Linked DNA regions of Homo sapiens. The protein of the gene in region 1 purifies or fractionates together with the protein of each later gene. This does not show direct contact. Each region holds a gene or a part of one and is shown on either strand. Other genes may lie near its edges. The genes, in order: MYO1D, FEZ1, ATP6V1A, FSD2 and SAAL1.

The links.
Region 2: the proteins of MYO1D (region 1) and FEZ1 purify together in Homo sapiens (co-immunoprecipitation; one large-scale study listed by IntAct). This does not show direct contact.
Region 3: the proteins of MYO1D (region 1) and ATP6V1A purify together in Homo sapiens (co-immunoprecipitation; one large-scale study listed by IntAct). This does not show direct contact.
Region 4: the proteins of MYO1D (region 1) and FSD2 purify together in Homo sapiens (co-immunoprecipitation; one large-scale study listed by IntAct). This does not show direct contact.
Region 5: the proteins of MYO1D (region 1) and SAAL1 purify together in Homo sapiens (co-immunoprecipitation; one large-scale study listed by IntAct). This does not show direct contact.

Annotation. Positions count from the first base shown.
Region 1 is NC_000017.11:32,757,131-32,763,397, forward strand, and holds part of MYO1D (unconventional myosin-Id), read right to left. Parts: intron 3,498-6,267; coding exon 3,352-3,497; intron 3,275-3,351; coding exon 3,160-3,274; intron 2,997-3,159; coding exon of another isoform or gene 2,982-2,996; exon of another isoform or gene 2,682-2,981; intron 1-2,681. UniProt on the Homo sapiens protein: Unconventional myosin that functions as actin-based motor protein with ATPase activity. Plays a role in endosomal protein trafficking, and especially in the transfer of cargo proteins from early to recycling endosomes.
Region 2 is NC_000011.10:125,484,920-125,491,186, forward strand, and holds part of FEZ1 (fasciculation and elongation protein zeta-1), read right to left. Parts: intron 4,904-6,267; 5' UTR 4,859-4,903; coding exon 4,548-4,858; coding exon of another isoform or gene 4,544-4,547; exon of another isoform or gene 3,280-4,543; intron 1-3,279. UniProt on the Homo sapiens protein: May be involved in axonal outgrowth as component of the network of molecules that regulate cellular morphology and axon guidance machinery.
Region 3 is NC_000003.12:113,790,927-113,797,193, reverse strand, and holds part of ATP6V1A (V-type proton ATPase catalytic subunit A), read right to left. Parts: intron 2,323-6,267; coding exon 2,200-2,322; intron 2,105-2,199; coding exon 1,990-2,104; intron 1,319-1,989; coding exon 1,255-1,318; intron 1-1,254. UniProt on the Homo sapiens protein: Catalytic subunit of the V1 complex of vacuolar(H+)-ATPase (V-ATPase), a multisubunit enzyme composed of a peripheral complex (V1) that hydrolyzes ATP and a membrane integral complex (V0) that translocates protons.
Region 4 is NC_000015.10:82,760,365-82,766,631, reverse strand, and holds part of FSD2 (fibronectin type III and SPRY domain-containing protein 2), read left to right. Parts: intron 1-600; coding exon 601-734; intron 735-1,333; coding exon 1,334-1,466; intron 1,467-4,353; coding exon 4,354-4,530; intron 4,531-6,267.
Region 5 is NC_000011.10:18,087,827-18,094,093, forward strand, and holds part of SAAL1 (protein SAAL1), read right to left. Parts: intron 4,499-6,267; coding exon 4,419-4,498; intron 2,668-4,418; coding exon 2,608-2,667; intron 2,465-2,607; coding exon 2,349-2,464; intron 1,685-2,348; coding exon 1,504-1,684; intron 1-1,503. UniProt on the Homo sapiens protein: Plays a role in promoting the proliferation of synovial fibroblasts in response to pro-inflammatory stimuli.

The DNA.
Region 1 (6,267 bases):
AAATCCAAGGTTTTATGCCAGTTATTTGTACATGGCTTTTAGCTCCATTTCTAGTCTTGCATGTTCTCTTCTGTATCTTATGGACTGAAACCTGTAAACTGGGTAGTTTTTACTTTGTTTTTTATACTTTTCTGATCTGTCTAAACTAAAGTTTCTCAAATAGGGGAATAGGGGGAATTTTGCTCACCAGGGGACATTTGGCAATATCAGGAGACATTTCTAGTCAAAATGGGGTAGGGGTGCTACTGTCATTTGGTGGGTAGAGGCCAGGGGTGCTGCTAAACATCCTACAATGCATAGAACAGCCTCCACAACAAAGAACTATCTGGCACAAAATCTCAGTAGTACTGAGGTGAAGCAGTGTAGGTCTAAATATTTACTTTCATTATGGGCATTTATTACATTTCTAATTAGGGAGAAAAGTTATTTCCATCTTTGGAAAAAAAATCCTAAAAATACTCAAAAAGCAGGAGCTCTATATTAATAGTTGACATCTTAGACTTCGGGACTGTGAAATTAAAGACGAAGTCTTTTGTCCCAGGGACTAAAGAATTACCTTCCCTAAAATCCCAATTATATTATTAAAAGCTATTGGTCTCTGCTAGTAACTTTCAGTTTGTAAGTTTAATACTGCTTCAAACATTGCTTAAACCAGTAGTTTTCAAACTAAGTTCTTCCAGCAACTTGGCATTCCCGTAAGGTTTCCTAAGGGATACCAGGAGCCAGAAGACTTGTGATGGGGTAGCTTAGGGACATGGGGCTCTGGCCTTTCATACCCACTCCAGATAAAACAGCTTTGTGCTTGAGTATCAAGTTCTCAATAGTTAAAATGATTTGCAAACTACAGCATCGAAAGCTTTTAAAAGTGAATGTACCAGATAACCAGACATTATGAACCTCCTGGTGGAAGTTCACACACAGTCTATGAAATGGGCTGTGGAAAAAAACTGACTCTGAATCCAGTCAAGACTCTAGATCTAACAACCAATATACAGGACATACAAGAAACAGAGAAACATATTAAATGGCACCTGAGGAATGCAATTAGCAAAATCCAGACTGTGGGGAACTCCATAACAAATGACTCATTCTCTTCAACACAAGATTGCAAAGAGAGATCATTCAAGGAAAAAAAGAAACATGGAGAAAATCTATAGATATGCAAGAGACCTATCAATCAATCATAATGTAAGAAACTTATTTGGATCCAAATTTAACCTGCAAAACAACAACCAGAAGACAATTAAGGAAATATGAAACATGTATACTGACTGGATATTTTATGATATTAAGGAATTTTTGTTAATGTTTTAGGTATGATAATGGCATTGTGATTATGGTTTTTGTAAAACTCTCTTAGAGAAATACATGGAAATATTTACTGAATAGATACCCAATTGAATAGATGAAATAATGTGATATCTGAAATTTGCTTCAAAATAATCTGGGAGTAGGTGGGTATAGTACAGATGGCATAAGACTGGCAATCAACTGGTACGTGTTAAAGCCAGGTGATGGGTATATAGGGTTTACTGTACTATAGTCTGTCTTCTTAATGTGTGTTTAAAATTTTCCATAATAAAAAATCTTTTAAAAAGAATCACTATGTTTAGAAGTTTGGGGTTTTACCCAGAATAGAGATTCTAATTGTGGGGGGATCTGCCATGTAGTAAGTAACTGTTACCTTGGAGTTAGCCTTCTGCTCCCTCTAGGACAAATAGTTCTTGGTTTATTTAGCGAAAATTTTTTGCATTTTGGGATTCTTAATTCTTTTTGAGATGTTTGGAACAGTCCACTGCATTACTTACCCTGTTGTCAATTATGTCTGTGAAATTTGATATTCTGATTGTGAAAGGATATTTTTGACTAGTACCTTGGAATCACATTTGAATAACAAGTTTTATGATTAAATTTGGTATTAAAAATCCAAGCTTCAGTTATACCGTGTATTATATTATACAACAGTTTCATTCTTAGAAAGCTTCATATACACTTAATTGAACTGAATTAAATTTTAATTGTATTAGGAGAGTTCATTATTTAAGTCAAACTATAGATAATTCTTATATAAAATAGCCCTTTGGTTTATATGCAGATAGGTAAAATTTATGCCAATATACCTGAGCAACTGTTTTATGGTATTCTAACGTTTAACACATGATGGAAGGCAGATACAATTTTGAGGCGGGAAAGCTATTTGTTATATCACTGTCTCTTTATTTCAGAATGAGAGGAAATAGAAAATAGGTAGGAAGGAAGATAAAAGTCATTTAAATATAGTATTTCAAATATTTTTTTGCTGCTATTATATTGGATAACAAAAAACAAATACTGGCTTCATTTCTATTCTCTGGCAAGAGGATGAACAATCATATAAACTCAAACTACAGAAACTTAAAAGTTTTTGTATTTTTCAAGTTTATTCTCAAAATTGCTTAAAAATACAAACTTACAAGAAAAATTACTATGTCTCATTTCTATCATAAACAGAAGGTCTTATCACAGGAAATTTAAAAACCAAACAAGTCATGCCTTTTAGCTTTGATCTCTGTGGTTTGCACTGTGCACCCATTATACTTTCCAGCTATATCTTACCAGATTAGTTTGCCTCTGACAAATACAAAAGTTCCCAAAGATTGATTAGAGTAGAGGTGATAATTGAAGTGTAATACACAAGAAAATGCAAAGTAAAACAAGTATTTTAATGTGTAGGTTTCAGAGAATATAAACAACATTAACTGAAGACAATAAAATACCATATAGTCTACAAAGTAGAAGAGGAGAAAAAGGAGGAAAAAGGGAAGAAGAAACTAGATTCTGAAGCAAAGTTCAGCCAATTTAAGGTATAACTTAATAAAGTATGCTAAACCTAACAGACAGATATAAACCAGTAAGTCCACGTGGTAGCAGCCATAAAGTGAAAACAGGTTTACTGGTTCTAACTCAGGATGTTCTGGGCATCAACAAGGCAGTCTATCAAATTATAGCAATCCCACCTAAAAATGATGAAATTAATTGTATTTACATATCCCAAAAAGGAAAGCTAAGGTTCAGATGTTTCAAATACCCCCAAAAGATCAAGAAATACCTAAAATAAAATTTGACATTATCAATAATATGAGAAACACATGAAGGCATTTTCCATAAGAGTCCACTCACATGTTTCCAGGGGATCCCTTCCCGCTGGTATTCCTCTTGTTCTTGCTTCAGAACCAGCTGAATAAATAGCTGCTGCAGTTTCTCATTGCAGTAATTGATACAGAATTGTTCAAAACTACAAGAAAAGGAATAAATTAAGTTTCAACAAATAGAAAACAGGCAACAAGGTTTTAAGTATCTTTTCCAGTTTACCTGTTGTTGTCAAAGATTTCAAAGCCATAGATATCCAAGACACCAATAACAGTGTTTTTCCCATGGATTGTGGTGTCATAGTTCTTGACCTCAATAATATCATTGATGCGAGTAACGATCCAACAAAAAAGGCGCTCATATATTGCCTGCAAGGAAAATAGCATCATAAATGCTTGCCAATTTGGGAATGAGTCCTCTGTTTGGATTTGTGATCAGTTTTAAATTCCTGTCCACCTTCTCACTGTTTAGCATAGCCATTACTGGCCTCAGCAGAACAAATGAAAATGTAGACTGTCCATTTAAAAAAACCCAAACTACCTGATGTATGCAAAACTAAAGTAAATAGCTTGTATTTTTAAAAGATTATTACCGGTCATTATACCAATTCCAACGACACTCTCCAGGCATGTTTCCCTGCCCGGCTATATCAATAGTTTGCCTGATCCCTTGAATAAGCCAGTTCATTGCTTTATTATTAATTTCATCAACTATAAAGAGTTGAGAGCTAGTGAGTTAATATCTATGATCCACTAAAGCTATATGAATTCTAAAAAATATAAATATTGATTTCTAATGCTAAATGAAGATCTGAGCCAAAGATCAAGGGTTGAAATTCCCTGAGAATCGAACACACATCCAATGCACAAGAACACACACACTAAGCCACACATGGACAAAGGTGCCACACGCTAACACACATTCACATCCCGATACACATGTGCTCTGCAACGTCACATCGTTAGAAAACCTTCCTTAACGTCTCCTGCCAGCTACCCACTCTCTTCACCCATATCCATTACCTCCCCTTTACTCTTCAATCCACTCCAGTCTCCACTTACATCCTATTACTCCATTGAAATGGCTCATCAAAGACTCCCAGCACCTCTACATAGATACTTCTCGTACCTCATATGGACATCTTGCTCTGTCGCTCAGCATCACTCAACCTAGGTTTTCACTGCCTTCTTGGAACACTCTTCTCTCTGGATTTCGGATAATAGCCTTTCTGAATTTTACTCTTTGTTCACTGGATGTTCCTTTTTGGTGACCTTTGGTAGAGTCTCCTCTTCTACCTGACTTGTAAAAGTTGGAGTTCTTCCTGGTCCTCTTCTCTTCACTCTCTAGCACCTTCTAAATCATCTCACCCAGGATTAAATAATACAAATATAATATGACTCCCAAAAGTATTATCCAAATCCAGACTCAGAGAACAGTCTCTGAGCTCCTGACTCAAGAGCTTGACTGTCTACCTGACACTGACTCTTCAATGGCTCACAGCCATCTCAAACTCAAAGGACTCTTGATCTTTCCTCTTCCAACAACTGTTCCTATCCTACTTTTAGCCACAAATAAATAGCACCACTTAGAAATTCACTGATTTATTCAACAAATATTTGCTGAATACTTATTATATATAGTTTGTTAGAGATACAGGTCTAGGCAAACACAAACATAGTCTCAATGTCCAAGAAACTTAGGGAATAGAGTGAAGGAAAAAATTATTCTCTCTGTCTCTCTCACTTGCCCCCCACCTCGCAGATAAACATCCACACTAAAGGAGAGGTACATGGGGTCTTAGGGAAATTTAATCTATGCAGTGCTCAGGAAGGTTAGGGAAGGCCTCTCTGGGAAAGTGATACTTGAGACCAGAAGGATGAGTAAGAGGTAGCCAAGCAAGAGAGGAGAGAAGAGCAGTCCAAGCAGAGGGAACAGATGTGCACAGGCCCTGTGACTGGAAGGAGAAAGGGATCAGGATAATCTGTGAGGACTGAGAGAAGACTAATGTGCTGGGCTGAAGAAAGGGGGGCTGGGTATAGTATAAAATGAGGTGGGAGAGGTGGGCTGGAGCCAGACCATGTTAAAGTATTATTCTTGCTTCTCTCATTCTCCACATAATAGGTCCTATGGATTTTATTTTCTCAACACAGTCCATTTCAAATCATCCTCCTCTCCCCATTTGTACTTTCACTTTTCTGATTCAAGCTGCCCTCATCTCTTTCCTGGATTAACAAAATATCCCCTTAATTGACCTCTTTGCTTCCATTCTTACTCTAGCCCCCATAACATTCTCCATACTAAGGCCAGAGTGATCATTTTAAAAATGCAAACTTGCCAGGTGCAGTGGCTCATGCCTGTAATCCCAACACTCTGGGAAGCTGAGGTGGGCAGATCACCTGAGGTCAGGAGTTTGAGACCAGCCTGGCCAACATGATGAGACCCCATCTCTACTAAAAATACAAAAATTAGCCAGGCATGGTGGCGGGTGCCTGTAATCCTAGCTACTCAGGAGGCTGAGGCAGGAGAATTGCTTGAACCCGGGAGGTGGAGGTTGCAGTGAGCTGAGATCATACCATTGCACTCCAGCCTGGGTGACAGAGAGACACCGTCTCAAAAAAAAAAGAAAAAAAAAAAAAGACAAAAAAACGGCCGGGTGCGGTGGCTCACACCTAATCCCAGCACTTTGGGAGGCCGAGGAGGGTGGATCACAAGGTCAGGAGATGGAGACCATCCTGGCTAACATGGTGAAACCCTGTCTCTACTAAAAATATAAAAAATTAGCTGGGCGTGGTGGCGGTCGCCTGTAGTTCCAGCTACTTGGGAGGCTGAGGCAGGAGAATGGCATGAACCCGGAAGGCAGAGCTTGCAGTGAGCTGAGATTGTGCCACTGCACTCCAGCTTGGGCAACAAAGCGAGACTCCATCTCAAAAAAAAAAAAAGGCAAACTTGATGTCATTGCCCCTCCTTAAAGTCCTCCCTATTGCTCTCCATTGCACTTAGGAAAAATTCAAATTCCCCCAAAACTAAAAACCAAGCCTAAGACTTACAAGAGTAAAAAATGAAATAGACAGTAAACTAATCAACCAGCAAAACAACAACAACGAAAGTTAGACGTGAGAAAATACAACGCTTGCCACA
Region 2 (6,267 bases), on another chromosome or scaffold:
GCTTTCTGTGAGGAAGAGAAAGGGAAGGGCTGTCTATCCCATCATATATCCCATCATAAGCAGGGTTCTTGGGAGTGTGCATCACCCCTTTTGTGAGTACCCGGAGGTGGACTGTAAAGTTTTACTTCCCTGAGAAGCATCCTGCTATTTACTCTTACCTTGGGGAAAGAAGACTTTGAAAGCTATCTCCTCTATCATTCATCAGAGAACTAAGATTAAACAGGTTGCCTCAGTTCCTATCATTATGCTGCCATGACACCTGAGATTCAATTTGCTCTCTCCATCCCTGTATAACAGAAAAGGCTTTTTCAGGTGCATATTTTATAGCTTGGGCTTAGGTGCCTGTAGAATTGACTTAAGTATCTTTCGCCACAGAGAGCAGGGGCTTTGGGAAAGGCTGCTGGCAGAGTATGAGCAAACCCAGTGGAGGAGGGTGGAGACTGGGGGGTGCCAGGACACGTGTACAAAGAACTCCAGGGCCTGGAACTGGCAACATAGCCATCAGGGTTCTCTCAGTCCTGATGCACACGTAAACCCTTATATACCTATTTCTGACAATATGGCAGGCAGCTTAAAGGGCTTATTAGAATTCTAACTTGCTGACATTTCCCTCAAGCCTGGCTACTTCCCTTGTCTAGTGTTTTGCTGGTGTGCAGTCATGCCAATATCCACACCCAAATGTGTATTAATTTGAGTACACCTTTGCACTTTATGTTTAGAAAGTAGAAATTAGTGGCTGGGCGTGGTGGCTCACGCCTGTAATCCTAGCACTTTGGGAGGCTGAGGCGGGTGGATTGCCTGAGCTCAGGAGTTCGAGACCAGCTTGGACAACATGGTGAAAACCCATGTCTACTAAAAGACAAAAAAAAAAAAAAAATTAGTCCGGCGTGGCAGCGTTTGCCTGTAATCCCAGCTACTCGGGAGGCTGAGGCAGGAGAATTGCTTGAAACAAGGAAGCGGAGCTTGCAGCGAGCCGAGATCATGCCACTGCACTCCAGCCTGGGCAACAGAGTGAGACTCTGTCTCAAAAAGAAAGAAAGTAGAAATTATTAGCAGCACATTAATGCGTTTGCTCAACTTTCTAGATGTCCTCAAATGTTTAAATAGAATCAATACTATATCCGCTTTCTATAACCTCTAAAAAGAGAATTAAATTTTCTAAAAATCACAATTATGTGTAGTTTTCCCTAGCTGACTATTTGGTATTTACTTGTCTTCAACATGTAGTATATCTGATGACAGGCAGTTTATTGTGTGCACTTTATTTTTAACATCACCTATAACAATTCTATCTGAAGAAACAGCCATTGCATGGTTAGCCCCTCTGTCTTCAGGGTACTCGTAAGAGGGCTGATAGGGATCCCCAGTGACGTAGGAGGTAAGCTGAGGGCCGTCAATTTCCATTTTGTAGTGACCCCTAAGAGGCTGTGACCTCCAGGCCCAATCTCTTATGGCAAAGGAAGAGGGTGGTCACATATACACAAAGAAGAGATTCTGGGATATTTCTTGAATGCAAAACCAAAAAATGTGTATTCAAATCTGACTCTCCTTTAATGCCTAGAACTTCCATGCCCTGACAGATCAGAGATAAGTTGACAAATCTTAGCCAACTCCCCTCTTGGCTAAATAGTTCCAAATGAAGACTAAAGAAAGCTTCTAAGGGAATCACTACATTTGCTCTATGATTTGTGCTGTCTTTAAGGAGGCAGTTTAACCAAGTATTTCCCTGCTTTTGTTTTAAGCTTCTATTATTTACCTCTAACCCATCCACAGCACTTTTCACTCATTTGTGGATGAAACAGCCCTCTAAATACTAAACCGGAACAAGTTTATAACAATAACATTAGAGCTATGTTCAGGAGAAGTGTAGTCAGGTGAGATATTAAGTCACCCTTTTCCTTTACTTAGCCATAATTTCACAGTTGAAATATCTGGATAGTGTCTATGAAACAAAGTGTGTAACAGAATTCTGATTTTTATTTTAAATTATAAAGAGGGGTTAGAACTGAATGCCTAGAAAGTGTTGTGTTAATTTTTCTCTTCCCAGCTTCCTCCCGCTACACTGTCCCCAAATTATACCTTATCTCGAAGGAATTATTCAATCTTTGGTCTCTTAACTGAGGCAGTCAATGAGGCAGTCAAGTCAGAAAAATCAGGCTGAGGAGGCCAATAATCCCATGTGATGGTAATTAACATTGAGTGGCCTCTTCTAATGTGCTAGAAGACAGTAAGAATCTGCTCATTGGGCCTTCATCCTTAATGAGGCAGAGGAGGGGTTTTGATAGGGGGGAAATGATTTGTTGGAAGCAAAAGGAATGGGACGCATCTTGAAATGTCATTTTCAGAGCACCTGGGCATCCTGGGTGAGGTAAGAAATTAGGTTCTTTACAAGTCCTTAGCCTCACTTCATCAAGATTGAGCTCTGGAGGTTTCATAGATGAGGACCTACACAGTCAACCAGGGTTAAATGACTTGCCCAAGGTCACACAGCGAGTTAGAGAGAGTACCAAAATTAGAATTCATAGTCTTTGTATTTCTAGTTCATTGGCTGGTGCACTAGAACGAAAAAATATTCGGCATAATAAACCCCCAGAGCCATTCTTTTTTGACTTATAAATGTTGAGCAGATAACAGGCTCAGAATCTAAAAAGAATCTGTTTGAAACTTAAAATTTAAACACATAGCCCACAGCTATAGTACTAGTCAGCAGAATGAAATGTTCTCTGTGATCATACCTTCCGGCCAGCATTAATTAAAAAGAAAAGAAGGAAATGGTGTGGGCTTAGAAATATATTACATGTACATACAAGGCTACTAGCTATTATCACTCATCTAGTTTATTTGATATTCAATATTTCATTCAAAAATATTATTTGCACATTGCACTGTATTAGACAGTGGGGCTGTAAGAGTGAATCAGACAGATATTTGGCCCCTCTATGTGTAAAAGTAGAGTCTTACAGTAGTCATCAAATAAGCAACCCTCTCCCAAATACAGTCAGGTTCCAATCCTCTAGGACGTGCCTCTTACCCCATTATTTGTGGGCCATTCTTCCCACTCAAATCCACAAAAAGGGAAACAAAAGCACAGGTGCTTCAGACTTCCCTGACGTTTGACATTTCTTGTGTGATAGCTAAGAACAATGGATGCATATTGTATCTCTGCAGGGAACTCATGTAGACAGTAGTCCCCCCTTATCTGTGGTTTTGCTTTCCCAGGGCTCGGTTATCTGCTGTACAGTACAATGAAATATTTTGAAAGAGAGAGAGAAAGAGAGACCACATTCACATAATTTTTATTACAATATATTGTTATAATTGCTCTATTTTGCTGTGAGCTGTTGTTAGTCTCTTACTGTGCCTAACTTATAAACTGAACTTTATCATATGTACGTACATACAGGAAAAAACATTAGGGTTTGGTACTAGCAGCGGTTTCAGGCATTAACTGGGGGTCTTAAAACATATCCCCCACCATGGGCCAGGTGTGGTGACTCACGCCTGTAATCCCAGCACTTTGGGAGGCCAAGGCGGGCAAATCACCAGGTCAGGAGTTCGAGACCAGCCTGGCCAACATGGTGAAACTCCCATCTCTACTCAAAATACAAAAATTAGTCGGGCATGGTGGCGCACACCTGTAGTCCCAGCTACTCAGGAGGCTGAGGCAGGAGAATAGCTTGAACCTGGGAGGTGGAGGTTGCAGTGAGCCAAAATTGTGCCATTGCACTCCAGCCTGGGCGATAGAATGAAACTTCATCTCAAAAAAAAACAAAACAAAACAAAACAAAAAAACACATCCCCCGAGGATAGCGGGGAACCACTGAATTTTTACTAAATGCCTAAGACATCCTTCTTTAATTTGTGTAACATATCACCCCCTTCTCTTTCTAGTCCCTCCTGAAAGAGTACTTTTCTCAGATCCCTTTTCTTGACTACTATTAAGACCCTAGAAAGTAGCGAGCAAGTGATACAAGGAATCTGCATACTCAAAGGCCACATCACCTAGTTTCCACCTTTACTTTGTCCAGGGTAGCCCGCTGTGCTCTCAGTTCAGTTTAGATGCTTTCTTATGTGGACATATCCTAACATCTGTAGATAACTCTCCAGGCCTGAGGGGCTGTCAAAAATTCGGGATTTTCAAAATTCTGGTGTTTCTTGAAGCAAATTAGTCCAATAACATAGATTCATCCATCATGGTTAATTAATTTTTTCTGGCCTTTATTTCTAATATCTCGCTGGATTTCCACTGATATAAAGAAAGCTTAAGATAGACAGACCCTGAAATTTACTGTGCTCCTGAAATTCCATTTTGTATCTAGGAAAACCTTCATTCCTCTAAGGTTTCAATTTAAGAAAGTTCTCCTCAGGGGACTGTAAAGGGACATATATAGAGCTATGACAGCAAGTACCAGGGCACTGCTCCGCTGGCAACACGAAAATGAAAGTAATAGCCCATAAACCTATAGACAGAAACCAGCACTATGTCAAGGAGACAAGGACTACAGGGCTCTCGACTGAAGCAGGAGAGGGCAATTAAGACTTCTTACTCCTCGTCCTGAAGGGTCTCCTCCTCCTCTTGGATCTGTAACTGGTTCTTCACGGGAGCTAGGTTCTCGGTCTTGGCGTTGTAGTTCCGAAAGCAGACATTGAGCTTCTCATCAAATTCATTTACGAGGTCCTCCATGGACTTGAAGCTGATTATTTCGGAAGAAAAATTCTCAAGCTCGGAGAGGGAGGGGTCCTCGAGATGGTGGGGAGATGAACCATAGAAACACTGGGGCTTCTCCTCCGGGTCCTCCGAGCAGGAGGGTCGAAGGTCCTCAAACTCTTCATCCAGACTCACCAGTGGGGCCTCCATTCTTGCTCAGCAGGAGAACAACAGCGACTTTCAGGATGAGTTTATCTAAAAGAAATGAACAGCGTAATGTGAGTTTAGACCAGGCTAATCTAAATAATAGAGTTAACTTTAGAGACACACCTGCTTCCAATTCCCTACTCCAAAAAACAAGGCACTGGTTAAGTACGAAGCTCCTGGACAAGATCGTCTAGGTTTGCATTCTGTTCTGTCCTACCAGCTGTGACCTTGGGCAAGTGATTAATTGCTCTGTGCTTCTTATTCTTCTCAAGACAGATATAATACTGAACCCACCTCAAAGGGCTGTTAGAAGACTAAAGGAGTAAACACAGGTGAGTGCTTAAAACAGTACCTGGAAGATAATAAGTGCCAATATTATTGAATACTTTCTGTTGGTGTTTTAGTATTATTATTTTTATTACTATTACTATTACCACAGATCCATATCCTTAACTATGTGATCTGAAAGCTGAAAATTCTCCATGACTTGTTTGGCAGCAAAATGTGACATGATCTAAACTCATCTGGCAACTAAACATGACCAACATGAATATAAAGCTGTTCATGGCTTTAATTTATCCCATTTTGTGTGTTTTGCTGCAGAAATATTAACTTTTTAATTACAAAGATTGCTATCCCAGATCCCACTGGATGAAATGCGGAATGTACACTCTATTACTACTTTCCAAAATCTGAAATAATCTGAATTCCAAATGCCTGGCCCCAGGGGTTTTGGATAAGGGTTTGTATACCTAGATATTACTACCCTTATCAATAAATAGTAGAAACTAATAAAACATTGGCTGGATGTGGTGGCTCATGCTTGTAATCCCAGCACTTTGGGAGGTTGAGGTGGGAGGATCATTTGAGCTCACTCAGGAGTTCAAGACCAGCCTGGGCAACATAGTAAGGTCCCATCTCTATTTTTATTTTTTTAAAAAAACTAATAAAACATCAATAGAGACCTTCCAATAAATGCCTGAGTTGTTTTTGTTTCGTTTCGCTTTTGAGACATAGCTTCACTCTGTGGCCCAGGCTGGAGTGCAGTGGTGTGATCTCAGCTCACTGCAACCTACACCTCTGGGTTCCACCAATCCTCATGCCTTGGCCTCCCAAGTAGCTGCGTGTGCCACCACACCCAGCTAATTTTTGTATTATTAGTAGAGATGGGGTTTCACCATGTTGGCCAGGCTGGTCTCGAACTCCTGACCTCAGGTGATCTACCTGCCTCAGCCTCCCAAAGTTCTGGGATTACAGGCATGAGCCACCGTGCCCAGACAAGCACCCAAGGTTTTCCCACACATAGAGCATATGCCTAGGAGCAGAGGAATAGACTAAATGATCTATTATCCTGTATCCTGTAAGAAACAGACCCAACTACCCATGTGCTCCAAAGCCATACTCCATAACCA
Region 3 (6,267 bases), on another chromosome or scaffold:
AGGCTGAGGCGGGTGGATCACCTGAGGTCAGGAGTTCAAGACCAGCCTGGCCAACATAGTGAAATATTGTCTCTATTAAAAACACAAAAAATTAGCCAGGTGTGGTGGCGGGTGCCTATAATCCCACCTACTTGGGAGGCTGAGGCAGGAGAATCACTTGAACCCGGGAGGTGGAGGTTGCAGTGAGCTAAGTTTGTGCCATTGCACTCCAGCCTGGGCAACAAGAGTGAAACTCCGTATCAAAACAAACAAAACAAAAACATCTAAGTGTTTTGATTAAATTTAGTTGCCTATCATTCACAGGGCCAATCCAACAACAACTGACAGTGATTTTTGTAAGGGCAAACATTCACAGATATTCCATGCATTTCTAACTCTGTTCCCTCTTTCCCCATAATTTAAAACTCAAAATTTTAGCAAACGTTAAAAAGCTTGAGAGTTGTACATTTAGCCTCTGACATTTCCTTTTCTCTGATACTGTCAGAAACACAAGTAAATATTCTGTTTTTCCCACATGAATAATATACACATATCACTTTTTTTTTTTAACTATAGCTCTGATTTGTACACATCTTTTATTTGGGCTTCTTTTAATAGCCAAGCTGGCTACCTATCCACTAAAATTCATGTCTTGTCACTGGAAAGCAAATGCTTAGGCAGAAACTGCATTTTCCAGCCTTGCTTTCACCTGGATGTGGCTAATAGAATGAGTGGAGTGACTGTGTCACTTTTGAATCCAAGGTTCAAAAAAGGTGGGTATGCCTTCTCCACAAGGCCCAGCTCCCTTGTGTCAGCTAGATGCAGATGATCACCAGGCTAGGTGACAGTGGAGTCACAAGATGGAAAGAATCCTGGACTCAGAATTATCACTAAACAGAAGAGAGCCTTGGATCATACTGTGAAGTGAAATAACTTCTGGGTATTACACATTTTTGGGCCTCTTTGTTTCTATAACTAGGGTTACTATGACTTAAAGGATAATACTACTCTAATACTAATAAAATTTTTGCTACCTATATTTTCCACTTATATATTATTAAGTTTATTATAAATCCTATGTAAACAGCTAAGAAAAAAACAGACAGTATTAAAGGCTCTGTGTTAAGAGTGTTTCTAAACCAGACTTTACCATTGCCTATCCTTTAGAGACTAAATTAAATACTTCACAACGATTACATTAGATCGCATTAGAACAGCAGGGGCTGCAGAGAGGAGGAAAGGCTCAGAAGTTGACTATACTAGGGAAAGACATACCTGAACGATACCAAGAGTGGCAGATGTAACTGGATCAGAAAAATCACCACCAGGTGGAGAAACTCTAAATTTAAAAAAAATATGGTCATTACAAAAAAAATGGTCATTAGAAATGCTTATGAAAAATAACATATATATAAATGTTAACTTTTTTTAAAGTCGATTTTAATGTAAATAACTTTTTAATGTAAATAACTTTAGAAATGACCTTTGGAAAGAAAATCTTACCTAAAAATCTTAAACAAAAGCCAGTATTTAAGTTGTAAACAACAATAGAAACTACAGAACACCTTCTATTATGAGACATGAGATAGATATTTTATTATAATCAATTTTATTATTCTAATCAAATAGATGAAGCAAGGAGGAAACGCTCTAAGAAAAAAGTATGGCTTTATGTAGTGATCACGAATCTTCACTTTCTTTTTACCGTGATGCAATCTCACCTTATTATGTCTATAATTTTCTAAATTATAAAAATTAAATAAATATCTAAATTAAACATATAAATATATAAATTAAAGTCAAACCTATGGAACCAGGACATGTAGAAATTGCCTAAACATGTGCATCTTCAAAGAGCTCCTTAGGTGACTCTGGAGTGCAACCCTCCTTAAGAACCGCTGCTCCCAGCGGGAGCTAAATATTCTCTCTTTAAAATAAGTGACTTTTTTTCTCTCTTTAATACATCTGTGACTTTTTTCCTTTTGCAAAGTAAATAGTGTGGGTGCTTACGCTCCTACAATGCTGACACTCCCTTCTCTTTCAGGATTTCCAAGACATTTCACCCTGCCTGCTCGTTCATAAAACGAGGCCAGACGGGCACCAAGATAGGCTGGATATCCACTATCTGAAAAATGAAAAGAAATTTTAAAACAGAGTTTCTAAGCCAGCCCCGAAAATCCCATCAGTCTTGTTTACATGATAAGCAATACACAGACTTACCTGCAGGCATTTCAGCTAAACGACCAGAGATTTCTCTAAGGGCCTCAGCCCATCTAGAGGTAGAGTCAGCCATCATACTGACATGATAGCCCATGTCACGGAAGTACTCTGACAGTGTGATTCCTAAATTGGGAAGAATATTATTATAAGTTACAATGCTAGCATATAAAAATCCTGTTTTTTTCCACCCTTAAGAAAACCTTAAAGCAATAAGTACACAACGTAGACTGCTAGTGGCTCCCTCAAAGCTGCTCTTCCTCTTTTTCTGGGCACACACTGAATTGTTTCCTAGCATCCTGTGCACTTAGATATGGCCATGTAACTGATCTCTGGCTAACAAAACTCAAGTCAAAATAATGTGTTCTACGGTCAGGCAAGTCACACGCTCTTCCATACTCTTTCTTCCTTCTGGCCTACTGAAATGGAAAGAACTCCCAGTAGTCTTGGAAGCCATGTGTTGAAAATGGTAGAGCTCATTTCAGGCTGGATCATGGCTCAGAATGACAGAGTAAAGAGTGCCCTGAACACTTGAAATAAACATCTATTATATTGAGCAAATATATATTTGGAATTATTTGATGCCATAGCCTAGCTGGCCCTAATATAATGCACATTTTAGAAAGCAGGAAATGACTTTCTCTATTCTTTGTTGAAATAATTAAGTCTGAAATTAATTTTCAAATGTAGCTTCTCTCTATATATCACATACACACACACAAACATGTATGCATGCAAAAGTAACCCTTAACCAATCAGCTTGGGTGGTTACTTTTCAAAAGTAGCAAATGTTATTAAAATGAGTAATATCTTAATTGTCCAGATTATTCTGCTATGCAGATCAGGTCCTATCCTGTAAATTTAGACAGTAAACCACTTATAAGCAGCTAATATACAGAAACGAGTGTTGGGTTCTAGTTCCTATTCTGTCATTAACCTTAGCAAAATAACTTGATTTCCCAGTGTGGCTTCCTAACCTATTAAAAATGGAATAACGCCTGCCCTATATACTTGTATATATGGCAGATGAAGTGAATTAAATAAATGTCATCTAAAAAGTACAAAGCGCTATGAAACACTAAGATATTAGGAAAAATATATAGTTATATTATAAAAGTTCCAAAAGATTTTGGAACTTTTATAATGCCTTGGTTTTTTTATTTTACTGGTAAAGAAACAGAGGTTTATATAAGTAAAATTAACATAATTAGTGGAAAATTCAGTACTTTCCTATTTATCATATTGCATCTTTCAGAATAAAAAATACTGACTGTTCAGGCATCCATAAAATGGTCTCATGAAGAAAGTCTTTAGGAAACATTACTTATCAATATTAAGGCTTCAACAACACAATAATTACCACATATTCCAATCTAATAAGAACAGATTCTTTCTTATACAAGCATGCTGTGTTTTAAATCTGTGATGAAATGTCACAGATACTTGTGATATTAGAAAGAAATGGCAGAAAAGACAGATACATATGAGTAAGTGAGAATTCTCTGACAGACCTACAGGTATCAGTGCCTACAAGAAAAATATGCCTCAGACAAAATCAAGAGATAAACAAGCTGGGACATATTTGCAACTCATGACAGATAAAGGACGAATTTATTCATTAATCAAAGAGTTTCTGGCCAGGCGCGGTGGCTCAAGCCTGTAATCCCAGCACTTTGGGAGGCCAAGGTGGGCAGATCCCCCGAGGTCAGGAGTTCGAGACCAGCCTGGCCAACATGGTGAAACCCCATCTCTACTAAAAATACAAAAATTAGCCAGGTGTGGTGGTGGTGCATGCCTGTAATCCCAGCTACTCGGGAGGCTGAGGTTGTAGAACTGCTTGAATCCAGGAGGCAGAGGCTGCAGTGAGCCAAGATCGCACCACTGCATTCCAGCCTGGGTGACTGAGTGAGACTTTGTCTCAAAACCAACAAACAAACAAAAAAAAACAACAAAAAACCAAAAAGAGTTTCTAGAAATCAGTATGAAAAACAACTATCATCCAAAAGGAAAATGAACACAAGGCAGTTTTTAAATGGTTCATACACACAAGAAAGATGCTAGTTCATTGTTAAATACAGATTGAACAGGTATCTAATAAAGCAAGAATAGTTAAAATTTCAATTGTCAAATCTAAGTGCTGGGTACATGGTATTCACTGTAACATTCTTTCAACTTTTCCGTATCTTTGATAATTATCATAAGAACGTGTTGAAAAAACTAGCATTGGTGAAGATGTTGAGAAGCAGAAACTCTTGTCCACAGTTAGCCCTTTTGAAGGGCTATCAGAATGTAAAATAATAATTAGCAGCTGTATTGGCAGGAATTTTGCTTCTAAGAAATTACCCTAAGAAATGTACAAAGAGGCCAAGCATGGTGGTTCATGCCTATAATCCCAGGACTTTGGGAGGCCAAGGCAGGAGGATCTCTTGAGGCTAGAAGTTGCCCATCCTGGGCAACATAGTGAGACCCCCATCTCTACAGAAAATAAAAAAATTAGCCAGGCATGGTGGCTCATGTCTGTAGCCTCAGCTACTTGGGAGGCTGAGATGAGAGGATCCCTTGAGACCAGGAGGTCAAAGCTGCAGTGAGCCATGAACATGCCACTGCACTTCAGCCTGGGTGATAGAGCAAGACCCTGTCTCTAAGGAAAAAAAAAACATGCAAAGAAACATGCATGCAAAACATACAAAGAATAGTGTAAAAATATATGTTTAAGGATGTTTTAGTGCTGCCTATCGTAAACGACGATAAAGAATCCAATAGTCCACCAAAAAGATGCCAGTTAAATTGATTATGATATATCCATACAAAGGGATACTGTGCAGCCATTTAAAAGAATAAGGTAGCTTTCTTAAAATGGTAGATGAATATGTCACTGTCTCTTCCTCATAAAACTTACCTCCAAACAAGGAGAACAAGAAATACAGAAATACAAATTTAGTCATTAAAAACTAGGAGACATAGTCCCACAACAATATAATTTAAAAAGTCACCTAAATAAGGTGAAAACCAAATAAGGGTATGGAAAAATGCCAAGAATTCATCTGAGGCCATGCATCTCAGATAAAGCTTCTGCAAACTTGAAGGCACATCTTCAAGTGCCTTGTTTGTTTCCAAACAAAGCAAGAGTGCTTTGTTTGGAACACTGCAAAAAGCTACATGGCCAGTCGCAGGAAGGAGTTCCTTGTACTCAGTTTGGCATCAAAGAGAAGCAGGAAGATAGGGATGAATAAAACACAAGTAGGTACTCCCTATTTTCACTAAATGAAAAGTGGGTGAGACAGAGGAGAATTCACTGTGAATGGTCTTACAGCTGCTGATTTCTGGTATCAGGCAAGAAGAGTAAAATAGCTTTTTTACACAGCTGCATGCCATAATAAACTTCACAAGTTACCATGAAGAATTCCTGCTACCCTGGTACACAGTCACAGCCAGCCCTCTCATCTCCTACAAAGATGAGTAATAGTAATAATAAATATCAGTACAGGATATCTAAACAAAAATAAAATAAGGAAAAAGACAGAAGAGAAGAATACAATGATGGTCAAATAACTTGTCAAAGAATAAATGAAAACTGTGACCACAGTTAAAAAAAAAAAAAAACCCTAATAATGCAGCCTACTACAAAATAAAATCTCAAGGCATATGGAGTAAGATAAGAAGAGATACTTGATGAGCTGAAAGAACAAAAAGAAATAGAAGTGAAGGTTTCATTAGAAGCAACACAAAGAATAAATACCATTTATCCTGTGAACAGACACAAGGCTAAATAAAAAGGAGTAGAGAGGAAATGATGCACATGGAAAATAGATAACAAAAACCTAACATGTCTAGTTGGTATATTTGAAGAAGACAGCCATAATGAAAAAGTTTCAGATGCAATTTTCTAAATTTTTCCAAAATAAAAGACATATTTCATAGATGAAAAGGGCACATTATGTATCCAGAAAAATTTAATGAAACTATCAATATTGGAATATATCTTAATAAAGTTAAGAGACTTCAAATTTAAAGAGAAAGTCCTTTGGGAAAAGAGAAAAATCACCTACAAAAGGAAAAAAAGAGGCCAGC
Region 4 (6,267 bases), on another chromosome or scaffold:
TAGCTGGAATTACAGGCACCTGCCACCACACTCGGTTAATTTTTGCATTTTTAGTAGAGACGGGGTTTCACCATGTTGGCTAGGCTGATCTCGAACTCCTGACCTCAAGTGACCCACCCGCCTCAGCCTCCCAAAGTGCTGGAATTACAGGCATGAGCCATTGCACCTGGCTGAATTGACGGCCTTCTATGGGCCCAGTACTGTACTAAGAATAGCGGTACTCAGCCCCTGACCTCAGAGACATTATGATCCTAACAGACGGACAGAGACACACTGGATTCTACTGCATGCACACTCCATGATGCAGTGTTAACCATATGCCAAGCACAGTGCTGGGTGCCTGGGAAACCAGAATGAGGGACTTGGAGAGGAGACAGCCACAAACACAAGAAGTAGCAATGAAGTGAGAAAAGCAGACCAGAGACTGTGGGAGGGAATGCAGAGGGGGAGCCAGCACTCCTGGCTATGCTGCTGTTAAATGTGGGTCAGAGGACAGGAGCGCAAGAGTGAGTTAAACCTTCCAGCTTTGAAAGGGATGCCTGGTGCTTGGGCCTGGGTGTCCTAGCCCCATTCTGACTGCAGCTCTGCTTCCTTGTACAGGTCTGTTGTGGGCATCCCGACCTGCGAGTCCGTGGTGCAGCTGCAGCCGGGGCGGAGCTACATTATCTATGTGCGAGCCCTCAATATGGGGGGCCCCAGCGTGAGGAGCGAGCCAGCTACAGTCCACACCATAGGTCTGTGCCCCAGCCCACAAAGTCTCTGGGACCCAAAGTGGCCACTCTGTGGCAGACCCAGTGCTGCTATGACTTCACTGGGAAATTGATGAATATGCACAGATGTGGACACGTGGCAAGTCAGGCCAGAAGGAGTTCAGGGGTGTCCCATACTGCCCTAATTGCAAGTCAAATGGATCATTAAGAAGTCCTTCAATTCCTATTTCCCTTGGCAAATAGGTTAGAAATTCTTATCCATACACAGGCATTACAGCTAGAGGTAAAGAGCACAGCCTCTGGAATCAGAGGGGCTTGGGGTTCAAGTTTAAGTTCTATCATTTGCCAGCTGATTTCTTAACCACCTTGTGCCTCTGTTTCCTCATCTACAAAATGGAAATAGTGACACCTGTTTCTAAGGGTCGTCGTGAGGATTGAAGGGGATACTAGGCACACAAGACTGCCCGATGAGTGTCAATTGCCATCCTTGTTAACTGGACGCCTATTACTAGGCCAGGTCCAGGCTTAGGTGTATCCCACACGAAGCTAAACCGGTGACCACCGCCCACATGGAGAAAGCAAGTGATTGGCTGCGGGTCTTCTGTGTGTTCCTCCTCCCACAGGAAGCTACTTTCGCCTAAACAAGGACACTTGCCATCCCTGGCTGACCATTTCTGAAGACGGACTTACGGCTGTACGAAGTGAAAGGAGAACCCCCGCCAGGGAGCTGTCACCCAGCGACACTCACTTCACCAGGTACTTTGTCAACCGCTCACAAGGGCGTTCTGTGAACTTCCCGAAGGTGCACTGTTATTCAGGTCAAATCCGAATATGGCACGGAGGCAGCCTCGAGGGAAAAGGAATCCTACAAATGAGTGAGGAGGGAGGAGCCTAATGGGGAGGGGACCCAGAGGAGTGTGGGCAAGAGGGGTCAGGCAGGTGCAGGCAGAAGAGCCCCCTGGGACGGTGAGGTCAGGAGAGGGCGCGGTCCCCTGGGAGGGCATGGTCCCTGGGTCCTAGGCTGCCAGAGCTGGAGCAGCCAGAGGTCATGAGGGTGGGACAGGAATTACTAGTGGAGGGTGTCCAAGTTCTTGGCGTTCTGAACAAAGAATTGGACAAAATGCACAAACAAAGCAAGGAAAGAGGCCAGGCACGGTGGCTCATGCCTGTAATCACAGCACTTTGGGAAGCCGAGGCAGGCAGATCACCTGAGGTCAGGAGTTTGAGACCAGCTTGGTCAACATGCTGAAACCCCATCTCTACTAAAAATATAAAAATTAGCCGGGCCTGTTGCGGGTGCCTGTAATCCCAGCTACTCGGGAGGCTGAGGCAGAAGAATTGCTTGAACCCGCGGGGCGGAGATGGCGCCACTACACTCTAGCCTGGGCAACAGAGTGAGACTCCTTCTCAAAAAAAAAAAAAAAAAAAAGCAAGTAAAGAATGAAGCAACAAGAGCAGAGATTTATTGAAAACGAAAGCACACTCCACAGGGTGGGAGTGGGCCAAGCAAGCGGCTTAAGGGCCGGGTTACAGAATTTTCTGGGGTTTAAATATCCTCTAGAGGTTCCCACTGGTTACTTGGTGTACACCCTATGTATATGAAGTGGCTAAAGTGAAGTTACAAAGTCATTTACTGGGTGTACACCCTATGCAAATGAAGAGGATGTTTCCTGCCATGCTGAAATACAAAGCTATTTACTTGGACTTAGAAGGTTGGGGTTTTTCCGTTTAATTTAGTTCTAGGAAGTCCTTAGGTTCCCTGCCCCCAGACCCTGTTCTCCTGCTTCACAGGGGTCATGCTGTGGGCTAGTGGGAGAACAGAAACAAGGACCCAGGTCTCCCACCAGTTAGCCCAGTGCTCTCTCTCCTGCACTGTGGTACCTTACAGCAAAACTCCTGATGGAAAACTGGCCATGGAGTGAGTCTGTTCCAAAGTTCAAGGCAGATAATTGCTTTGTACATGTACATATGAAAGAAGCCGGAAAGATCATGTTTGGAGAAATATAAGGAATTTGGTATGTCTGCGGTATAGGATCCATGACGGGAAGAGGTGGAAGATGAGGCAGGAAAGTCGGAGAAAGTCCAGTATACACACAAAAAGTTAGGATTTTATCCTCTATGTGGTGAGAATTATTGGAGGATTTAAAGCAGGGGAACAAGATCAGATTACATTTCAGAAAGATTCCAGTGCATGGTAGAACGTGAGCTGGGGAGGGAGAGGGAAAGGCAAAGGCAGATGGGAAACAGAGACCAGAGAGGAGACTATGGAGGGCTTGACTACGCAGTAGCATGGGTGAGAGGAGCCAGGGGAGTCAACTGCTGTTGAGCACATAAAACCAACAAGGCTAGGTGCTCACCTGTTTAAAGGGCAACAGAGAGGAAGATGAGTCAGGGACTATCATATTGCCATATTTATAGAGTGCTTACCAAGTGCTAAATGTATTTCATCTCATGCAATCATCCTAACAGCCCTGTACTATTACCAATCCCAGTTGACGGATGAGAATACTTAAAACACAGAGAAGTAACTTGCCCAAGAGTATAATGCTATTAAGGGTTGAAGCAGGAATCAAACTAGAAGGTGAGCTTGTAGCCACTACATTATTCCCATCTTAGTTTTCCACCAGGGGGTTACCGGGTAGATAATGACTCTATTAACCAAAATGGAGATGTGAGAAGTATGTACCCCTCCCCACTACACCCCAAACTTTGGTAGATAAGAGGGGTGGGAATATGACTTTTTCCATTTGGGACATTCTGAATTTGAAACAACAAGTGGAAATGTGAGTCTGGAGCTTGAAGCAGAGATGGCCTCATTTTATAGGTGAGGTAACCGAGGTAGAAGTTAACCAACATGCAACCTCCTTCCCAAAGCTTTGCTTGAGCAGTAAGAACTTGGGGTTTTGAAAGTAGAGAGAAAATTTTAAACTGAACAAATCTTTCTAGGGATGTTGAGGTCTATATATATTTTGGTTAATGTAGGAGTCTCCTGAAGAAGGTAGAATATTCACTTTGGAGATACCAGTATAATTTGATTTTCACTGAAAACCTTCCTCTGTTGATACTTTGCTGATGTAGAACAAAACATAACTCTAATCTTTGTCAGTATAATTGTTCCCAGTGCAACAGTGGAGGTAGATTTTAATGATCTGTGAGGAATCTGCTATCTTGTTCTCCTTGGGCTGGCCTCTGAATTCCACCAGGAGTCATCCCTAACATGATGGCTACCTCAAAGGCCTTCCATGTTCATTTAGTACCATAAGCAATGGTGGTGAACTTCAAGCTTATGGTTCCCTTAACCGTGCTGTGTTGTGTATTTTCAACCCTTTTCTTTTTTTATGAACAAGTGAACCAAACCTTTTTCTATGAAAGCCCCAACCATTTTAAAGAGCAAACAAAACTTGTTCTGTTGGTTTAGTGCCTCCTCCTCTCCCATTACCAAGCAGTAACATAATCTCAAATCTTCAGTATCAGCCCACTGAGCTTTGAGAGCTAAGGGTACTTTACAAGTTAAGTGTCCAGAAGCACCTACCACCACGTTCGTAGACCACCGACTGACTGATCCCAGCAACTGGCATCACTGACCTGCACAGCCAGGCTTGGGGCACCCCAGATCACACATGCTTCCACTTTCTAAAACCAGGTGTGTTGCTGTCATGGGAAATCTAATTCCAGTCCGAGGGCACCATTACTGGGAGGTGGAGGTGGATGAGCATTTGGACTACAGAGTTGGTGTGGCCTTTGCAGATGTCCGTAAACAGGAGGATCTGGGAGCAAATTGCCTCTCCTGGTGCATGAGGCACACATTTGCATCATCAAGGTAAAGTAAAATCTGGATACTCACAATTAAAATTTGCTTTTGAAAGATTACAGCAAGACCTTTTCACTAGCAATAATTAAGACACACGTTATATTTTACAAATATTTTAAGATATTTCAGGAGTTGCTGCCAGCCACTTTCCCTAAAGTCCAAGTAAGAGGAGAAAGAGCAGCTTTTCTTCAACTAAAAATAGCTAAAATTTATGGAGAATTATGTGCCAAGTACTCTTACATGCATTATCTCATTTACTTCTCACAATTGTGTTATCTCATTTGAAAAATCAGAATGCTGGGTGCAGTGGTGTGCACCTGTAGTCCCAGCTACTCAGGAGAGTGAGGTAGGAGTATTGTTTGAGCCCTGGACTTCAAAGCCAGCTTGGGCAACATAGCAAGACCCCGTCTCTAAAAAAAAAAAAATAATAAAATAAAAAAATAAAATAAAATAAAAGAATAAAAATAAGAAGACCACACCTCACAGCAATTAGATAATCCAAACGACATGGATTTGGAACTTGGATTCAAACTCAAGCAGTCTGGTTCCAAAGATTTCATTCCTAACCACTTAAGTGATAGATTTTTCATTTCTGTTCACCTTTAGTATTAAGCCAATACAGTTTGCTTTGAAGCCCCAGTTCCATCTTTTTAAGTAAATGTGGGCAAGAGGCTTAGTAGTTATGGCTAATTCTGGTTTGCTCCTGCTGCTGGGCACTCTGTCTTTACACATGGAGTAGTTCCATATAGTGGGAAAAAAAGTCTCACGAAGCCCAGGCCAATGAATACACTTTCAGACTTAGAAGGCCATGGTTACAACCTTCCTTCACCTCAAAAACTGAAAAACAAGACCCCACACTGCTTTCCTATCACACCTTGTAAAATGGGGCCTCTGACCCTCCTTGATTTGATGAATCCTATTAATGTTCATCCAATGCTCTCTGCCCATGATCCTCTATCATGGTTATTTACACATTATGTGTCATGCCCAAGCATAAGTGGGAAAACCAACTTCCCCTCCGATAACAGATGAAGACTCTAATGAAATCTACTAAACCTCACACCCAGTTTGGGGAATCCAAGAATTACTATACACTGAGGCAGATACTTTATTTGGGGATTCTGCCTGAAGTAAGACTAAAGAGCAAAGTCTCTTCTTTAGAAAGGCAAGAACAAGGGGCAGAGTAAAACTAAGGGAGCATAAAGAAAGCCTAGAAGTCCACGTGTAGAGGGAAGAATAAAGGGGGTAAGAAGACACAATAGAAGAGGGGTGGAAACAGAAGAATGACAAAAGAAGGGCAAAAGCTACAGTCCAAGTGCTAGAGCCAAGCCAGTTTCTTACAGATGTAGGGTGTGTGTGTGTGTGTGTGTGCGTGCACGCACACACGTGCACACACGTTACAAGTGGAGAATGAAGGTAAGGTATCCTAGGATAAGGTCTCCTAGCAGACTTGCATTTTTGGCTCATAGTATTAGACTTTATTGGTGGTAGCATAGAAAGTAGAAGAAACGACTCATAGCTTCTGGCAGCTGCTTAGTTAAATTAAGGTGAAATGGGCTAGAGACAGGCAGGCTTCCTCTGACACGTTTAGATCATATTCCAAGTGTTTATCCCAGTAGCCTAGACTAGCCTGTTGACACAAAGAGCTCTTCAAATATCTGTAGGTAGCAGGGTTAGGAAATTCCTGTGACAGGTTTTCATTTCTGCCATTTTTCAAAGTACACAGGATGTAGAGCATGGATAGTG
Region 5 (6,267 bases), on another chromosome or scaffold:
AATTTCAGGCACTATGTTAGGAGTTGAGAAAACAGATGTATAAGATGTTATCCCTACCTTCATAAACTTTATACTCTAAAAGGAAAGAAGATTCCAAGTGGGGTAATTACAATAAAGTGGTACTAATGTAGCACTATGGGCTAGGAACTTCACAAAGCAAGGAGACTTAGTTTGCAGGGTCAGGGAAGGTATCTTAAGAAAAATGATGTTTACACAGAAACATGAAGGGGCAAAGAAGTGTCTGAGGTGGAGGAAACATACTGTGCAAGGGCCTGGAGACAAGACAGCCTGGTTCAGTTGAAGAAGTGACGCAAACTTCACATGACTGAAACGCAGAGTACAAGGAATAAGGATAGCGCTACTGGGTCCATAAGCTGTACTTTATTTTTTTGAGAATTTTTCATTTATTTCATTCTTTTTTCCCCTATTTTATTTATTTATATTTTGGATTCAGAAGGTACATGTTGGGGGTTGTTACATGCATGATGCTGAGGTTTGGGAATATGGATGGTCCCATCACCCAGGTGATGTATGTAGTACCCAAGCTGTGTTTGTTTGTTTGTTTTTCTGGACCTTATCCTAAGGAAGGCAACTGAAAAGACCGAAGCATGAGAGTGAAATGAGTGCGTACTTTGCAAAAACAGCTTTAAAGTCTAGGCTTGGGAAGAGCAAGCATAGAGGCAGGGAATTCAAGTAAAAGAATGTGGCAGTTCTCCAGATGAGAAACAATAATGGCTTGATTGGCATGGATGGAATCCCAGAAAATGTCAGGAATAAGGGTTGGGAGTTGACTGCAATGGGAAAATACTGGGGCAGGAAAGATTCAGTAATTGGCTTCTCCATTTCTTCTACATTATCCAAATAGGATAATGATTACATCATTTACTGAGATTGAGAATACTGATGAAGCAGGTTTAGGGAAAGATGATGAATTTATCCCTCACTTGGATAAAGGACACAAAATTAATAGGTTTTGATGTGGCTTACTCAGCACTAAGAATGCACTAAGAAAAACACTAAGCAGATCAATTTAAAAATTAATTTTCTAGTGATTAGCAATAAACAGTTTTAATGACCTGTAAGGCTTAGTAATCACTCTTGGCAAGACATCAGAGTCCCAACATCGGTCACTTATTGAAGACTGGCATATAAACACAAGGAGCAAAAAAAAGCAAATGATGTGCAACGTTAATGAAGTTGTTAAATGTTCAATGTAAAATAAAGCACAAGAAAATGTTTTCTCTTTGATTTAAATTACATAAAATATGGTAAGACAGAAACCACAGTTAATGTTGAGTAACAGCCTATAGCTAAATGATAATATAACAGGAACTTTGTAACCACTATACAGGTTGCATCACAAATAGTAGTAGTGAATTAACGTAACAAGGAGTGACTATGTACTTTATTCTGTTGTAAGGAATATAAGAAGACTTTTATATCTGAGAATACTTCTAGCAATTGCATTTTCCCAGAACATTTTACACAAAAGAGCTCACCTACCGTACTTGTTTGGCAGCTTCAAGTATACAGGGCACAAGCCGAAACACTGGCTGCTCTTCAGACTCTTCCTGGGGTTGGTCCAGAGGCTGAGCAGCCCCATTTCTGACCCATTCTAACATTAGTTTCTCATCCAAATCAAAGAGCTTGTCCACAACCTCCCCCACCTTCACCAGCAAGTCAACTGCAGAGAATAAAACAGATATTGAAATGAAAAACAAACTGCTAAAAGCAATAGGGTTAAGCAAAATTCCTAAAGCTATTCTAAGAAAACCAAATCTTGCCAAAGCAGTACTTATTCTAAAGGGTGATTTACTTATCTTTTATGTTTAAATTTGCTTATCTTTCCTCATTTTTAAATGAGGAATTTATCAGTGTCCCAGGAGTTTAAGAAATTTTGTATCTTCAATCAAAAAACTTTCTCAAAAAAACAAACAAAAAGCTGGACATGGTGGCTTACACCTATACTCCCAACACTTTTGGGAGCCCAAGGCTGGATGACTGCTTGAACACACGAGTTGGAGACCAGCCTGGGCAAGAAAGCGAGACCCCGTCTCTACAAAAAATTTTAAAATGAGCTGAGCATGGCGGTGCATGACTATAGTCCCAGCTATTGGGGAGATTAACAGAAGGATACCTTGAGATCAGGAGTTTGAGGCTGTAGTAGGCTATGATCACACTACTGCACTCCAACCTGGGTGACAGAGCAAGATTCTGTCTCAAACAAACTTCATTACCTTGCACTCAAGGCTTTTTTTAAAAAGGTGACTTCTAGAAATAGTTACATGGTTTCCTAAAAATTAGATACAATTTAAAACATTTTTTTTCTAGAGTACATGATGACTTACCATTTGTTGAACTTGACATAATGAAGCAAATGCTATCATAAATAGCTGGATGTTCCTGGATCCTTTCAACCCAAACACTGGCCACTTCTGCCTGGGAAAGGCAAGTAAGCAACAACCTACATGGTAAACGTGGGTTGAATTTCTACTTTTCAAAAAAAAAAAAAAAACAGTAAAGGAAATTCGAAAATAAAAAATTAACTTTTTTTTCTTATCTACTCTTATGAGTAACCTTATAGAATTCATAAAAGGAAAAGCATACCTGCTTGTTTCCAGCAGAGTAGGTGGGTCTGAATCATACAAACAGTGCAATAACACCTGCCTACAAAAACAAAGAAGTTAACCGATATGCCTCACTTCTCGCATTTAAAATATCAGAGTTTTCATTTAATTTTTTGAACATCTTTATTGTGAAATACAGCATATATTCAGAAAAGCTCAAAAGATACAAATCTATAGTTAATAAATAATTATAAAGCAAACACTCGTGTTTCCAAGAAACAGAACAGAGCTGCATCTTTGTAGTCACCATGTGTCCATTCCAAATCACAATTCTCTTTCCCACCTAGAAATGATGACCATTCTGATTTTTCCAGCAATCATTTCCTTACTTTGCACTATAGTTTTATTATTTTATATATTTTGGTGTTGCTTTATACTGCAGGTAAAAGGATTAAGAGGACATGCTGAATAAATAGACATAATCTGGGAGGTTATTTGGATTCATGAAGACAGTCAAGGAGGGGAGACAACATATGAAATAAATTATACTTATTGAGTCTTCATTTATTTGCTGAAAATTATACATGTAAGATCTACCCATGTTGTTTCTTTAGCTGTTATTCTTTGACAGACTGCTGCAGAGCACTCCATTGTGTGAAAATAACACAATTTATTTTTCCAGACTACTGTTGATGGACATTTCTGTTGATTCCAATTTGGGGCTATTTCAAGCAATCCTCCTACAATATTTGTTAAGAGTTATCCTGATGCACACGTGCACAGTTTCTCTTACCATATATGCCCACTATGAGCTGGTCACAGCACATGCATATGTTCCAACGTGACCAGATAATGCCCAACTAAAGTGGTTCAACAAATTTATATCCCATCAGCAATATAAATTGCACCACACTAATATTAAGACAAGCATTTAACTGAATTTATAACATTTGTTAACATTTCTCATTTTTGGATTTTTGATAGAGAACATTAGAGACCAAACATAATCTTAAGTCATTTGTTCCATGGATGATGGTAAATTACTGAGGAATAAATACTCTGAACTAGGATCTTAAAGTCCCTCCACAACTAGGAGTTCTCTCTTTCTGAGAAACCCAGGTACTTGAATCCTGTGATAAAACCCTCATGGCCCCAGCTCTGACAAAAACTGCCTAGAACAGTTTTCTTAACCTATTTTGGGTACAAATTTCTTTGAGATTCTGATTAAAAGCCATGAACCCTTTGCCTAGAAAACTAATACACTCACAAAATTCAGCATATAATTTCGGGGTGTTCTCCGAACACAGTAACCACTGGGGTTTCCTCCATTAAAACACCTTCTGCCCAGAACTTTACACATGGAGAAGAGAACGAGCCTCGAAGCAGATATCTGAAAGTCTTTTCATCAGAGAGGCAACCCTTTATCTTCCAGTTGTTGGCAAGTCTTACACTCTAAGTCAGAGCTCTCAGGATGACATTATTCAACAAATCTAGTTTCTGTAGACTCCAGCTGAGTCATTGGATTCCCTGCCCCTAAACTGTTTTGGATTCCAGTTGGCTGCCCCATCTCCAAGTTTTGGCCCACTGGTTCTTCCCCTATCTGGCTTATTGCCACCAGCTGACAATTCAGGTTCCTTTGCTACTGAAGAAAACAGGCTTAAATCCTGAATCATTTCAGTATCTCCTGAAGAAGCCCCTAGCTATCATCAACACACAATGAAGTTCCCACAGAGTGTTCATCAAGACAAAGAAAGGACTGTCTTTCAGATTTGCTACTTTTCCTATGTATTAGAATTTCCTTAAGGATATAAATGAATATATTAAAAAACATAATTATATAGTAAGACTTACCCAAGATTTTTATCACTGCTGATGGACACACATATCTCCTGGAAACAGGCCATATTACCTAAAATTCCCACACAGATTTCCTGCCAAATCAAATTTTACAAGTCACAATGGCTCTGAGACGAAAGACGTAAACAAAAATATCAACTTGAACAAAAACTTTCGCTGAGCCAAGTTTTGGGGCAAGGCGGAGGGGAGGCAGGATAAAGAAATACATATACTGCCTGTACCCTAACCTTGACAAGCTTACAGTATTTGAGAAGGGATGAAAAACGTAAGAACAAGAAAGGGCAAAGGCAGGAGCTATGCGAGAAGAACTTCTATCGATAAAATGAGTTTTAAATGATTGATAGGAATGAGATATGCAAACAAAAAGACAGACATTCAAATAAGGGGAAAGTATCAGCAAAGGCAGGAAGGGAATCATGTACATGGCGAATACTGTAGACAATAAAGTACTCTGGTTGTGGCACAAAGTGGGTGAACAGCATGAGGTAAATACTGCAGGTATAAAGGACTGAGATTAAGGGCTCTGAATGCCGTGCTGAAGAATTAGACTTAATCTGGGAAGTTATTTGGAATCATGAAGATGCTCAAGGAGGGGAGACAACATACTGAAACAGTATCTTAGGAAGATTACTCTGGTGGCGAAATGCATAATGTATTAGTGTAGTCCCTCTTTATCCATGGTTTCAGTTACCCATGGTCAACCTTGGTATAAAAGTACTAAATAGAAAATTCTAGAAATAAACAATTCATGTTTTAAATTGCATGCCTTTCTGAGCAGCACGATGAAATCTTGCACCGTCTCACCCAGGATGTGAATCATTCTTTTGTTCAACATATCCACACTGTATGTGCTGCCTGCCCATTAGTTACTTAGTAGCCATCTTGGCTATCAGATCGACCATCGGGATATCTCACAGGGCTTGTGTTCATGTCACCCTTATTTTACTTAATAATGACCCCAAAGCACAAGAGTAGTGATGCTGGCAATTTGGATATGCCAAGGAGCCGCCATTAAGTGCTTTCTTTACATGAAAAGGTAAAAGTTCTTGACTTCATAAGAAAAACAAACAAAAATGTATGCTGAGGTTGCTTAGGATCTCTAAGAACAAATCTATCCATGAAACTGTGAAGAAGGAAAAGGAAATTTGTGCATATTATAAATAGGGTTCAGTACTATCCTCGGTTTTAGGCATTGGGGGCCTTGGAATGCAACCCCCAAGGATAAGGGGAGACTAGTGTATAGGGAAAAGAAGTTGAAAAGAACTTAAGAATCTATCTCAGTAATAGTTAATTAATATGTAATAACAGTTTATTACCACTCACGGTGGCCAGGCATTACTCTAAGCATTTTCTGTGTATAATTTCATATAATAACTTAGGTGATAGGTACTAATAGTATCCCCATTTTTTCAGATGAGGAAACTAAGGCACAGAGAAGTTAAGCTACTTGCCTAAGATCTTAAGATCTCCAACTAGAACACGGCAGAGCTCCAGAGCTTGAGCATTTAACCACTATTCCAAACTGCACCTCAGTTATCAAGATGCAAGAGGAGGAGGGCCCTCAGGCATGGAAAAGGATGAAGCTGAGGAAGACTCTCAAGGTGAAAGCAAAATAATCCAGTGTGAGGATAAAGGAGAAAGCAGTTGAACTTGACTCCTAGCTTTCAAGTTGCCTCATTTCCCCATCAGTGATATTGGTCCCGTTGACAGGAAAACTAAAAAAGAAAGTGCATAAAAGGCTACAATGAGTTCAGATGGTACAGTGTTTCCAACCTTGCTGGAACATAAGAATCACTCAGGGAGCTTGTTAAAAATACAGATTTCCAAATCTCATCTCAGATCT